Homo sapiens: one gene and its partners. The protein of the gene in region 1 interacts with the protein of each later gene in a pairwise test. Each region holds a gene or a part of one and is shown in the gene's direction. Other genes may lie near its edges. The genes, in order: DMD, HNF4A and CDC25A.

Evidence for each region.
Region 2: the proteins of DMD (region 1) and HNF4A interact in binary tests that used the Homo sapiens proteins (3 or more experiments, as listed by UniProt).
Region 3: the proteins of DMD (region 1) and CDC25A interact in a two-hybrid assay, tested with the Homo sapiens proteins (one large-scale study listed by BioGRID and IntAct).

The regions. Positions count from the first base shown.
Region 1 is NC_000023.11:32,343,906-32,347,560, reverse strand, and holds part of DMD (dystrophin), read left to right. Parts: intron 1-1,480; coding exon 1,481-1,618; intron 1,619-3,655. UniProt on the Homo sapiens protein: Anchors the extracellular matrix to the cytoskeleton via F-actin. Ligand for dystroglycan.
Region 2 is NC_000020.11:44,425,105-44,428,759, forward strand, and holds part of HNF4A (hepatocyte nuclear factor 4-alpha), read left to right. Parts: intron 1-3,230; coding exon 3,231-3,383; intron 3,384-3,655. UniProt on the Homo sapiens protein: Transcriptional regulator which controls the expression of hepatic genes during the transition of endodermal cells to hepatic progenitor cells, facilitating the recruitment of RNA pol II to the promoters of target genes. Activates the transcription of CYP2C38.
Region 3 is NC_000003.12:48,164,358-48,168,012, reverse strand, and holds part of CDC25A (M-phase inducer phosphatase 1), read left to right. Parts: intron 1-68; coding exon 69-167; intron 168-2,119; coding exon 2,120-2,182; intron 2,183-2,278; coding exon 2,279-2,377; intron 2,378-3,575; coding exon 3,576-3,655. UniProt on the Homo sapiens protein: Tyrosine protein phosphatase which functions as a dosage-dependent inducer of mitotic progression. Directly dephosphorylates CDK1 and stimulates its kinase activity. Also dephosphorylates CDK2 in complex with cyclin-E, in vitro.

The DNA.
Region 1 (3,655 bases):
CAATCTTAGTTCCCACTTCCTGGAGCTGCCTCAATCAATACTCCCCATGTATGGGGTTTGGTGGCCTTGCCAACTCAGCTTGTGGAAAGACGGAAGAGGCTTTCCAAGTTGCTGAGTTACAGCAATCTCTACTTCAGGTCAAAGAAGAAACTAGAGGGCACCAAGATGAAAAAAAGTACTGATTACCTCTTGGGCTGACCCCAACTCTGCCCTAGAGCCCTCAACTGGTATAGGGAAAGAAGTGAAGTGGGTTTTTTAATTTTTTGTTGTTTTTGTCCTCAGCCCTAGAAAATGCTACAGACTTTTACAACACCTTTTAAAATAAGTAAAGTCTTTTACAGACTATAAGTATATGATGTGTCTATATTATGATAAGTATATAATGTGTCTATATTATGCCGTATGTTTCTTTAGATTATTGACCAGTCTCTGACAAAAATAATCCCTTTCCCCCATACAAAATGAATCAGTCCTCAGTTGCGTGTTGAAGTTTATGCATTATAGATTTAAATATATAACATCTAATTCCTTGAATTGTAATACACACATACAAATACTTGTGACTTTTGAAATTTATTATTTGTTTTCCTTATGTCATCAGTGTACCTTGAGTACCATTACAATGTGAGACTACTTGATACAAAGTTTTCACATTCTGAGTTGAAAGAAAGAAAACTAAAGGTGAAAAATCACATGGTCATATATGCGACTATATTAGACCAGCATTTATTCAAAACATTTTATTTCTAAGTAAAGAAAATTAAGATATTGTTCTTGCAGCCTAAAGGAACAAAATACCCATTGAAAATGTTTAAAGCCATTTTCCAGTCCATATTTTAGTATTATTTGATCGTATTTAAATTAACATGCATATATGACATATTTTAGAAATTATTTGATGGTAACTTAGCACATGATTTTTATTAATATCCTGATATTTCTCCTATTAATATTGAGCATTTAGGTTTCAGAAATGAAGCAGGAGTTATTAGATAGGAATTAGTGTACATTTAAATCAAAATATTTTCATGTAGTTGTGTGTTAATATTTTCAGATTTGCTGTTATCTCAGTCACAAATACACATCTGTATTCCTTTATGGATCAGTTAACATTATAAATGATAACTTTAGCTCATTTCTCTAATGTTTTAATTTCTAGAACTACACTAAAAAAGCCAAAAGAATACTTTCACAGTAATTCATGACTTGTCTGACATGATGAAGTACCACACTCCCCCATCTTTCTACAGGTGCCCCTAAAAATGTGTTCTTTACAACTAGATGGGAGGAAACTTATTTTGAAACCTCAAGTACCAAATGTAAAAGAAAGGCTATGAGCACAGTATCTTATAATAGCATTCCATGAAAGTTTTAAATTGGATTTTTGTGTGTGTTTAAATAACATGTCTTATTATCTCTGTTAACAATGTACAGCTTTTTAAAAACCAAAATGAAGACTGTACTTGTTGTTTTTGATCAGAATGAAGACAATGAGGGTACTGTAAAAGAATTGTTGCAAAGAGGAGACAACTTACAACAAAGAATCACAGATGAGAGAAAGCGAGAGGAAATAAAGATAAAACAGCAGCTGTTACAGACAAAACATAATGCTCTCAAGGTATTAGAGCTAAAATTATAATATACCTTGCCTGTGGTTTTTTTTTAATATATAGGGTAAAATATAATGTGCATTAATAAAATCTGCTTCAGACTTAGTCATCAGAAACTCACTTTTTCTGTTCAATGTGTATGCTTTATTTAACATTTTTGAGTGGTATTTGATTTTGAACGATGTGTTGCTTAAAAGTTATGGCTTTTTAAAGACATATTTTTCTAAGTAGTAATTGAAAGATGGGAATGCATTCATAGTACTTATACATTTAATTTTCTAATGTGCTTTATTTTTATCAGCTACTTTATATTGAAAAAAACCTGCCTAACTGCCAGAATAACCGATCTACATGTATCCATTATTCCTGCTTTCTTTACTTAATTGATTTTGCTTGCATTAGGTCCAATTTTTTGGTAACCTGATACTTGTTTAATAAGCCCTAGATTCTTTTATTTATTTTTAAAACTTTATTATGCCTTTAAGAAAGTCACTCTTTGCAACTATCTACAAAGTCAAATTTCATTTATGTAGGAATCCTAAAAAATAATCTTAGTGCCCTTGAATAAGAACTGCTACTTTCATATTAAGCAGTGTAGTGTATGGCTTCAAGTCCCCAGGTGACTCATCTGGTTTGTGCAGGAAGAGCAGGATAAACTTAATTTTTCTATAATAATATCTAGGAAGTTCTTGAGACTAGACATGTGGAAAGTTTTGTGAAACTTTTTTTTTGTATATGCTTTGCAATAATCACTATTTGCATGCATGGCTGATTTTCTAATACTTTTAATTGCTGAGCTTTTCCTTGTAAATCACTCTTTTGAGCTATGTAGTTATGAAGGTGGATCCACCTAGCAGGTAGATGGAGTCTGCTTTCTACATGCAAATAAGAGAATAAAACCTTTCCCCCTATAGTCAACCAAATAAACACTGCTGAGAATGTAATTACACAATATTGTGCCTGCAAGGAATCCACAAGGAAAGTCTAATTGGCCAGCAGGTGTTCTGAAGGTAACTGCTGATAAATATAGTAAACAGAAAAGGCCTCTTCCTCGAGGGAGTGCAAAAGCACACCATAATGTGTCTAGAAAATCGGAACGCTATGTAACTCACACCCTTCCAACTGTGAGCAAGCTTTCAGAAGTATCTACACTGGTCGTATGATGGTGTGTGTCCTACTGAATAGCAGTGTTTAATGGTCATCTGGCATTCCTCTAAAGAAATCTACATGACATCTCTAAATATTTTACATATTATACATCACTTTGTGCTTAGGAAATGAAAGATGTTTCAGATTGATGACCACCAAGCCCTTTCTCCTGGCAAAGATGTGAGTTATGTCACAAATAAGGCATGGCTCAACTCTAATTCACGTGGCTGTATCTTGCTACCTTTGAAAAAAGCAGCGTTCGATCTGACTCCTCAGAAGGTTTGAAAATTCAACATAAAACATAAAGTACAGCAAGGTTTAAATTCCCAATTTTAAACAAACTAGATAATGAAATGTAGTTCATTCTTGCAAATACAGGCTATAAGTGATTAATCAAAATCGTCAACACTACTCGCCAAACCAATCTATACCAACATATTCAATAACTTTTTAAACCTGTCAAATAGTTCCAATTCTGGTCCTTATGAAATATTTTAGAGAAGGTCAAAATTTTCCAATGGAATGAAATTTTTAGAAATTCCCTGATATTTATTATTTTTTCGCTCGAATTAAACCTGTGAATAAAACCCTAATTGCTACTTTCTGTAGAAATGAAAGCTGCATGCAGAGCTTATGTTCCCATGAATTATAAAATGGCATTTTGAGTAATTCTATTAATCACAGAAGATATTGAGTGTGCTTGTAAAGAGCATGATGACTGATTTCCTCCCATTGTTGATTTATTAAATTAGTCTTATCACATTGATTTGAAAGCATGCACTTGCTGTTTTCTTTTTTCAAATAGTTAATTGTTTTGCATTTAGAGCATGATTTGGTATAGTAAGATAAATGTGGCTATGCAAGCCTTGGAAGGAGAAGCATTTATCTCACATAAT
Region 2 (3,655 bases), on another chromosome or scaffold:
CTGAGTAGTTGGGATTACAGGCGCCCGCCACCACGCCCTGCTCATTTTTTTATATTTTTAGTAAAGACAGGGTTTCACCCTATTGGCCAAGATGGTCTCAAACTCCTGACCTCAAGTGATCACCCACCTCAGTCTCCCAAAGTGCTGGAATGACAGGTGTGAGCCGCCACACCCATCCCAGACTAATGCTTCAAACAAACCACTCTGTTGGGTAGAGAGTGAATTGCAGATTCCTGAGAATGTCACTGTCTCCAATCATGTGATGGATGATGGAGGCTTGGACCCTGGCAATGGAGCAGTGAAGATAAACCTGATCATCTATTTGGAGGAAGAGCCCACACCCACAGGATTTGCTGATTGATCAGACATAGGGAGTGAGAGAAAGAGGAAGAGTCAAGGACAAAGTCTACATTTTTGCTTTGAGTAGCAGAAATGACGATGGAGTAATTTACTGAAATGAGGAGGACAGAATAAACAACAAGACACTGGGTCTGGGGGTGGTAGTGAGGGGTGACCTCAGAGATCCATTGTGGACCCTCTTTTCTTTTTTCCTTTTTTTTTTTTTTTTGAGACGAGATCTCTCTCTGCCACCCAGGCTGGAGTGCAGTGGCGCAATCATAGTTCACTGTAGCCTCAACCTTCCAGGCTCAAGAGATCCTCCTACCCCAGCCTTTCAAGTAGCTGGGACTACAGGTGCGTGCCACCACACCCAGCTAATTCTTCATTCTTATTTTTTATAGAGACAAGGTCTCACTATGTTGCCCAGGCTGGTCTTGAACTCCTAGCCTTAAGCAATCCTTCCGACTTGGCCTCTCAAAGTGCTGGGATTACAGGTGTGAGCCACCATGCCCAGCCTCATTGTGGACTTTCATTAAGCATGAGATGACTATTACAAATCCAAGTTATCAAGGAGGCTGTTGAATGTATGAGTCTGTTGCTCAAGCACAAGATTAAAGGCAGCTCTGTGGAATCAGGGGGAAGATGGAGCCATGGAGGGAAGGGAAGAAGACTGGCCAGAGGGGTAGGAGAAAACCAGGGCAATTCCAGAATCCAAGAGAAGAGCGTGTTTGAAGGACAGAGTGTTTAATGGTGTTAAACTCTACAGAGAAACAGAAAGAAGCGGGGAAGAAAGGAGAGGTGAAGAGAGGAGGGGAAGAGAGAGGAAAGGGTCCATTGGATTGACAGCTGGAGGCTCTTGGCAATTGTGTTGAAAGCAGCATCAGAGAGCTGGGAGAGTGGAAACCAGATTGGAGAGTGCTCCAAAGAGAGTGAGTGGGAAGGTGGAGATAGAGTAGATAACCCTTTGAAATGGTTTGACTATGAAGGGGAGTATGAAGGAGTTAGGATGACTGCAAGGGAGTGATTAGAATGATAGGTCATGGAGTCTGGGCTGCACTCAAAAAGAAATAAAGATAGAGGCCGGGCACGGTGGCTCACACCTGTAATCCTAGCACTTTGGGAGGCCGAGGCGGGTGGATCACTTGAGGCTAGGAGTTCAAGACCAACCTGGCAACACAGCAAAACACCATCTCTACTAAAAATACAAAAAAAAATTAGCCAGACATGGTGGCATGCACCTGTAATCCCAGCTACTCGGGAGGCTGAGGCAGGACAATCACTTGAACCCGGGAGATGGAGGTTGAAGTGAGCTGAGATCATGACATTGCACTCCAGCGTGGGCGACAGAACAAGGCTCTGTCTCAACAACAACAACAAAAGGATGGGGTGATAGTGAAAAGAGAGTGTCAGTGAATTGACAGTCTCAGTAGGGCTGAAGAATTTTTGCAGCGATGGTATTAGATTACGGGAGCTGGAAGGACATGAGGTGAAGTCAAAGTGGGGATGTTGAATTCGAGATTTTGGAGGTGTTTCAGTGACTGAAGATGACAAGGCGAGGGTGAGGTTTCTCAACATTGGTACTATTGATACTTGGAACTGGACAATTCTTTGTTGTGTGGGGCTGTCCTGTACATTGTTCAGCTGCATCTCTGTCCTGTACCCATAAGGTGCCAGTAGCACTTCTCCAGTGGTGACAACCAAAAATGTCTTTGGATATTGTCAAATGTCTCCTGATGGGCCAAAATCATCCCCAGTTGGGAATCGCTGTTATGTGATAGCTCATTTCATTCTCACTTTGACCCTGTGAACATGGGGTTATTATGAATCAGGTGTCATTGAGATCAGGATCAGGAGCCTGTGGTCTGTTGCCAAATAATTAAGAGCTCTCTGGGCTCAGTTGTCTCATCTGTAGAATGGGCTAATAATAGTATCCATCCTATAGGATTGCTGTGAGGATTAAATTATGTGAAACATGGGAAGTGCTATACAACAGTACCTGGCACGTGATAATTGTTAATTATCAACAATTGTTATTTATCACTGAAATAGATGTACTGTAGAGATCGCTTGCAAGCGTTGAAATTCCATCATCGTCATATTACTCACCATAGGCTATTATTAAACCATATCCCATGTGGTATTTTTACTCCCTGACATATGTTTGAAGCGGTTACTGTGTTCCAGACAATCTGCTAGGCCCTCAAAGAAAGAAGAAAAATACCTCTGAAATTGTAATGCTCATAGACAGAAGAAGTGGTTGTTCCTAAAAGTTGTGTTACAGACAAATTACTATGAGAAATCCAAGGAAGGAGAATCAGGAGAGGCTTCTAAAGAGAGGAAATATATGAGCTGGGATTTGGGCTTATGGACATGGAACAGGTTTGGGGTGGAAAAACATCTCTGACAGAAGCAACAACGTGAGCAGAAGCATAGAGATAGAAAAACACAGGGGACACATAGATGCTATAAGTAGGTCAGTTGGCTGCAGCAGAGATGTGGGGGATGAGGCTGAAAGGTGAGGCGGGACCAAATGGTTGAAGGACTTGCACTCCAAGGAGCTTTGAGAGCCATTGATTACATCCATTATGTTACTATGTGACCAATACACTACTCATTAGAACATTTACGTGATCTCAGAGCTTCCTTATATGCACCTTGTTCCTTTCAACTCACTTTTGTTCTCTTGGTTTTTTGGGGTCCTCTTAACACCCTCATGAAGTCTATAGATGGGAATGGTACACCCTAGTTTACTAACCCAGGAATAGGTACCCAACAGGCACTGCCAATATTGGATGGGCTGGTTGATTGGCCACGCCTGAGGAAGATGGCGTCCCAAGGCCTGAGGTCTGCATCCCAGACTCTCCATCCTGATCGACCTTCTCTACCTGCAGGGTCCCCCAGCGATGCACCCCATGCCCACCACCCCCTGCACCCTCACCTGATGCAGGAACATATGGGAACCAACGTCATCGTTGCCAACACAATGCCCACTCACCTCAGCAACGGACAGATGTGTGAGTGGCCCCGACCCAGGGGACAGGCAGGTGGGCAAACTCTGGGATTTTACCTTGCAAAGGGTGAGGATGGGGCTTAAGACAGGAGGCAGGAGAAAGTGGAGTCTAGAAGGTAGAACCAGGATGCAACAGTTTTCTGGGTTCCAGGGTAGGGAATAAAGGGCAAGATTGTCCATTTGTTGAGGCTGTTTATTCAGTAAGGTGACTGACAGCCTTTACTGAATGAAGCCATTGTTGGGATGAGGCAATCCACTGGATGAGGTAACCCATTGGGTGAAGATGTTCTTGGGTGAGAATTCCAT
Region 3 (3,655 bases), on another chromosome or scaffold:
CCAAGTGAATGTTTTCGGAAGTTCCATTCAGAACCCTTGTCTCATTCTCTACCTTTGATTTGTTACAGACTCTTCATCAGTCTTTATCCCTGGCATCTTCCCCCAAAGGAACCATTGAGAACATTTTGGACAATGACCCAAGGGACCTTATAGGAGACTTCTCCAAGGTAATTGCAAGCAGAGCTGCTCTGGCAAGTGTAGGAGGGAGTGTGGGTATTTAGAATCCCACTCAGCCTGTCTCCCTCCCCAGGGTGGTTCCTGGCATACCTCCAAAAGGACACAGTTAAAAGAATGTTAAAGGTAGGGAAGCAAACTTAGTTTCTCATGATCAGGTATATGTTGGTTTCTGAGACTGTAGATATCACTATAGCTGATGGGCAGTTTTAGGTAGGGAGCTGTCCACCAACCACCTTGATTGTAACCCAAAGACTAGGCTCTCTGGGAACTGTGTTATTATAAAAATAGTAATTAGCAGGATAGTGTACAGCAGAAATAAATCTGTAGCCACACTACAAGTCTGCATGTTGAAAGGTTATCTTAGAAGGTCTGGGATTGAGACTGAATTTCTCCGTTCAGAGAAGCTTGGCCATTGAGGGAAAAGACCCTCCAGGAAGTCTAGAGGAAGATCTTCTAATAGCCTGATATACTACATGAAGGCTTGGCTGCAGTAAAATACAAGGCTAGGACAGGGAATGTGTCAATAGCAGCTTCTTTAATCACATTTTGACTTGAAGGTTACCAGATCAATGTTTTATTCATTAATTTAGTTAACATTTATTGAAGCACTTATGTGTTAGGCAGAGATTCCAAAATGAGATACAGTTCCTTCCCTCAAAGAATTTAGCATGTGGTTGGAGAGGTGAGACGTGAACTACATGTACCACATGGTAGACTGAAATAAATTTTAGTGAGGTGTAAACATAAACAGCATGCCGTGAGAAGTAAAAGGGTTTATCTTGGCTAGGGGGTTGGGGAACGTCTGGGGTTGGGCCGTTGATATTTCAGCCCAAATGGGTTTTGAAGGAACGGAGAATGAAGAGAACAAGCAAAGATCCAGCTGTATCCTCAGTTTTGGAACCTTCTCTTGTTTGGCAGGGAGAGATGTGGTCTTACTATGTTGCTCAGGCTGTAGTGCAGTGGCTATTCGCACATGCTATCATAGTACACTGTAGCCTCAAACTTATGGCCTCAAGTGCTCCCCCTGCCTCAGCCTCCCAAGTAGCTGGGACTACAGGCATGCACCACCACACTCAGTGGAATTTTCAACTTGAATTGAGGCCTGGTTATATTTGTCTTAATGGGCCTATGCATGGGGATAGATGAACTCTTGGCTCAGCCAGTCACCCTAATGAGTAATTGCTAATGTGTGCATCTTCCTCCTCAAGGCTGGGCTAGGTCTCTTTTTTTCCTATCCCCAGTGCCTGGCACCATGCTGGACATAGCAGGTGCTCAGTAAATGAGTGAAATCTGTATGTTTAAGTGCTATTCGCAGTCTAACTACTGACGTGTGGATTCTTGACAAAAGCAGGAGGAAAATGAGATTACCTGAGGTTTCTTTATTTAAATCTGCCTTACTAGCTAGGTAACCTTGGATAAGGTGCTCAAAATGGGGATAATATACCTCATTGGTTTGTGTGAAAATTAAATGTCAGGATGTTAATGAAGTAACTAGAAGAGTAACTAGTGTGTACTAACTAATGTTTGTTTGCTTGTTTGTTTGTTTGTTTTTTGAGAGGGAGTCTTGCTCTGTCACCCAGGCTGGAGTGCAGTGGTGCAATCTCAGCTCACTGCAACCTCCGCCTCCTGGATTCAAGCGATTTTCCCACTCCAGCCTTCCGAGTAGCTGGGACTATAGGTGCATGCTAACGCCCGGCTAATTTTTGTATTTTTAAAAGAGTTGGGGTTTCACCATGTTGGCCAGGCTTGTCTCGAACTCCTGACCTCAGGTGATCCACTAGCCTCGGCCTCCCAAAGTGCTGGGATTACAGGTGTGAGCCACCGTGCCTGGCCATTAATGTTTGTTTTTTAAAAGATGCCTCCTACCAGCCAGACAAAACAGTATAAGTGTGAATAATATATAGGCTTTCAGATTCTCTAAGTATCTTTTTTTCTTTTTAAGGGTTATCTCTTTCATACAGTTGCTGGGAAACATCAGGATTTAAAATACATCTCTCCAGAAATTGTAAGTCCATCCTTTTGAAACCCACCACACATCGGGTACTTGAATCTAGTTTTCCCTGACGGTCAAAGTTGATTCTCCCTAATTTTCTCTCAACAGATGGCATCTGTTTTGAATGGCAAGTTTGCCAACCTCATTAAAGAGTTTGTTATCATCGACTGTCGATACCCATATGAATACGAGGGAGGCCACATCAAGGTATGGATTCCTGAGACTTGCTGTAGAAGGAGCCCTAAACAGGATCTGTGGTTTTAAAGTGGGGAGGACAGTGACACCTGGCCACTTAGCTCATATGCTAGTTGTTAGAATTTTGAAACAATACAGTGAGTGTGGAAGGCATTTGATTCCGGGTGCTCTTAACGAATGTTCCCTTGTCTGCAATACTCTCTACCACCTTGTGCACAGTTATTCTTCATGTTTGTCCCTCACACCATCATTATCAAGGACACTTGTAGGAGGTACCCACTGATGTTTAAGTCATTCGGGGGACAAGAATGGGTTTCATAGCATTTAAGAGGCTTGGGTACCAATGTCTGAGCACCCCAGGGCTCCTGATGAGGAGAAGACCATCTCTGGCAACATGTCCTGGTGTCTGTGCCAGGCCTAGTGATGCCTCCAAAGTTGATTGTTCAGCAAGCTGCCTGGTGGAGGGGCGTGTTGGGACACACGTTCCCAAGAAGAAAGGAACTGATTTTGCCATTTTAATCTTTTTTTTTTTTTTTTTTTGAGACAGAGTCCGCTCTGTCGCCAGGCTGGAGTGCAGTGGCATGATCTCGGATCACCACAACCTCTGCCTCCTGGGTTCAAGCAATTCTCCTGCCTCAGCCTTCCAAGTAGCTGGGACTACAGGTGCACGCTGCCACGCCCGGCTAATTTTTTTTTTTTTTTAGTAGAGACGGGGTTTCACCATGTTGCCCGGGCTGGTCTCAAACTCCTGAGCTCAGGCAAACCGCCCGCCTCAGCCTCCCAAAGTGCTAGGATTACAGGCATGAGCCACGGCGCCTGGCCTGCCATTTTAATGTTTTACCCGATTAATAGTGTTTAAATATAGTAAGGAGGTACTTTAAATACGATGTTACTGTTTGCCATTGTCTTGTGGCTTTTGAAAATCCCCAAATTTATAAAACTACCTATAAAGTGTACCATTGTCATATTTGAATTGCCCATTTCCAGTCCCCATGTGCATTACTGTATGATGAACGTGTACGGACCCACAAAGCTCCATTGAGATACAGGTGCCAAATGGTCTACTGGGCTATTCAGCTAGAAGAACTGCAAAAATCACAAACTGGTCTTGTGGACTTAAAGATCACTCTTGATGAATCATTACATCTTGCTGAATCATTACTTCATGTGTGAAACGTGCAGGTTCCAAGGGTCTCTGTTGTCTTCACAGGGTGCAGTGAACTTGCACATGGAAGAAGAGGTTGAAGACTTCTTATTGAAGAAGCCCATTGTACCTACTGATGGCAAGCG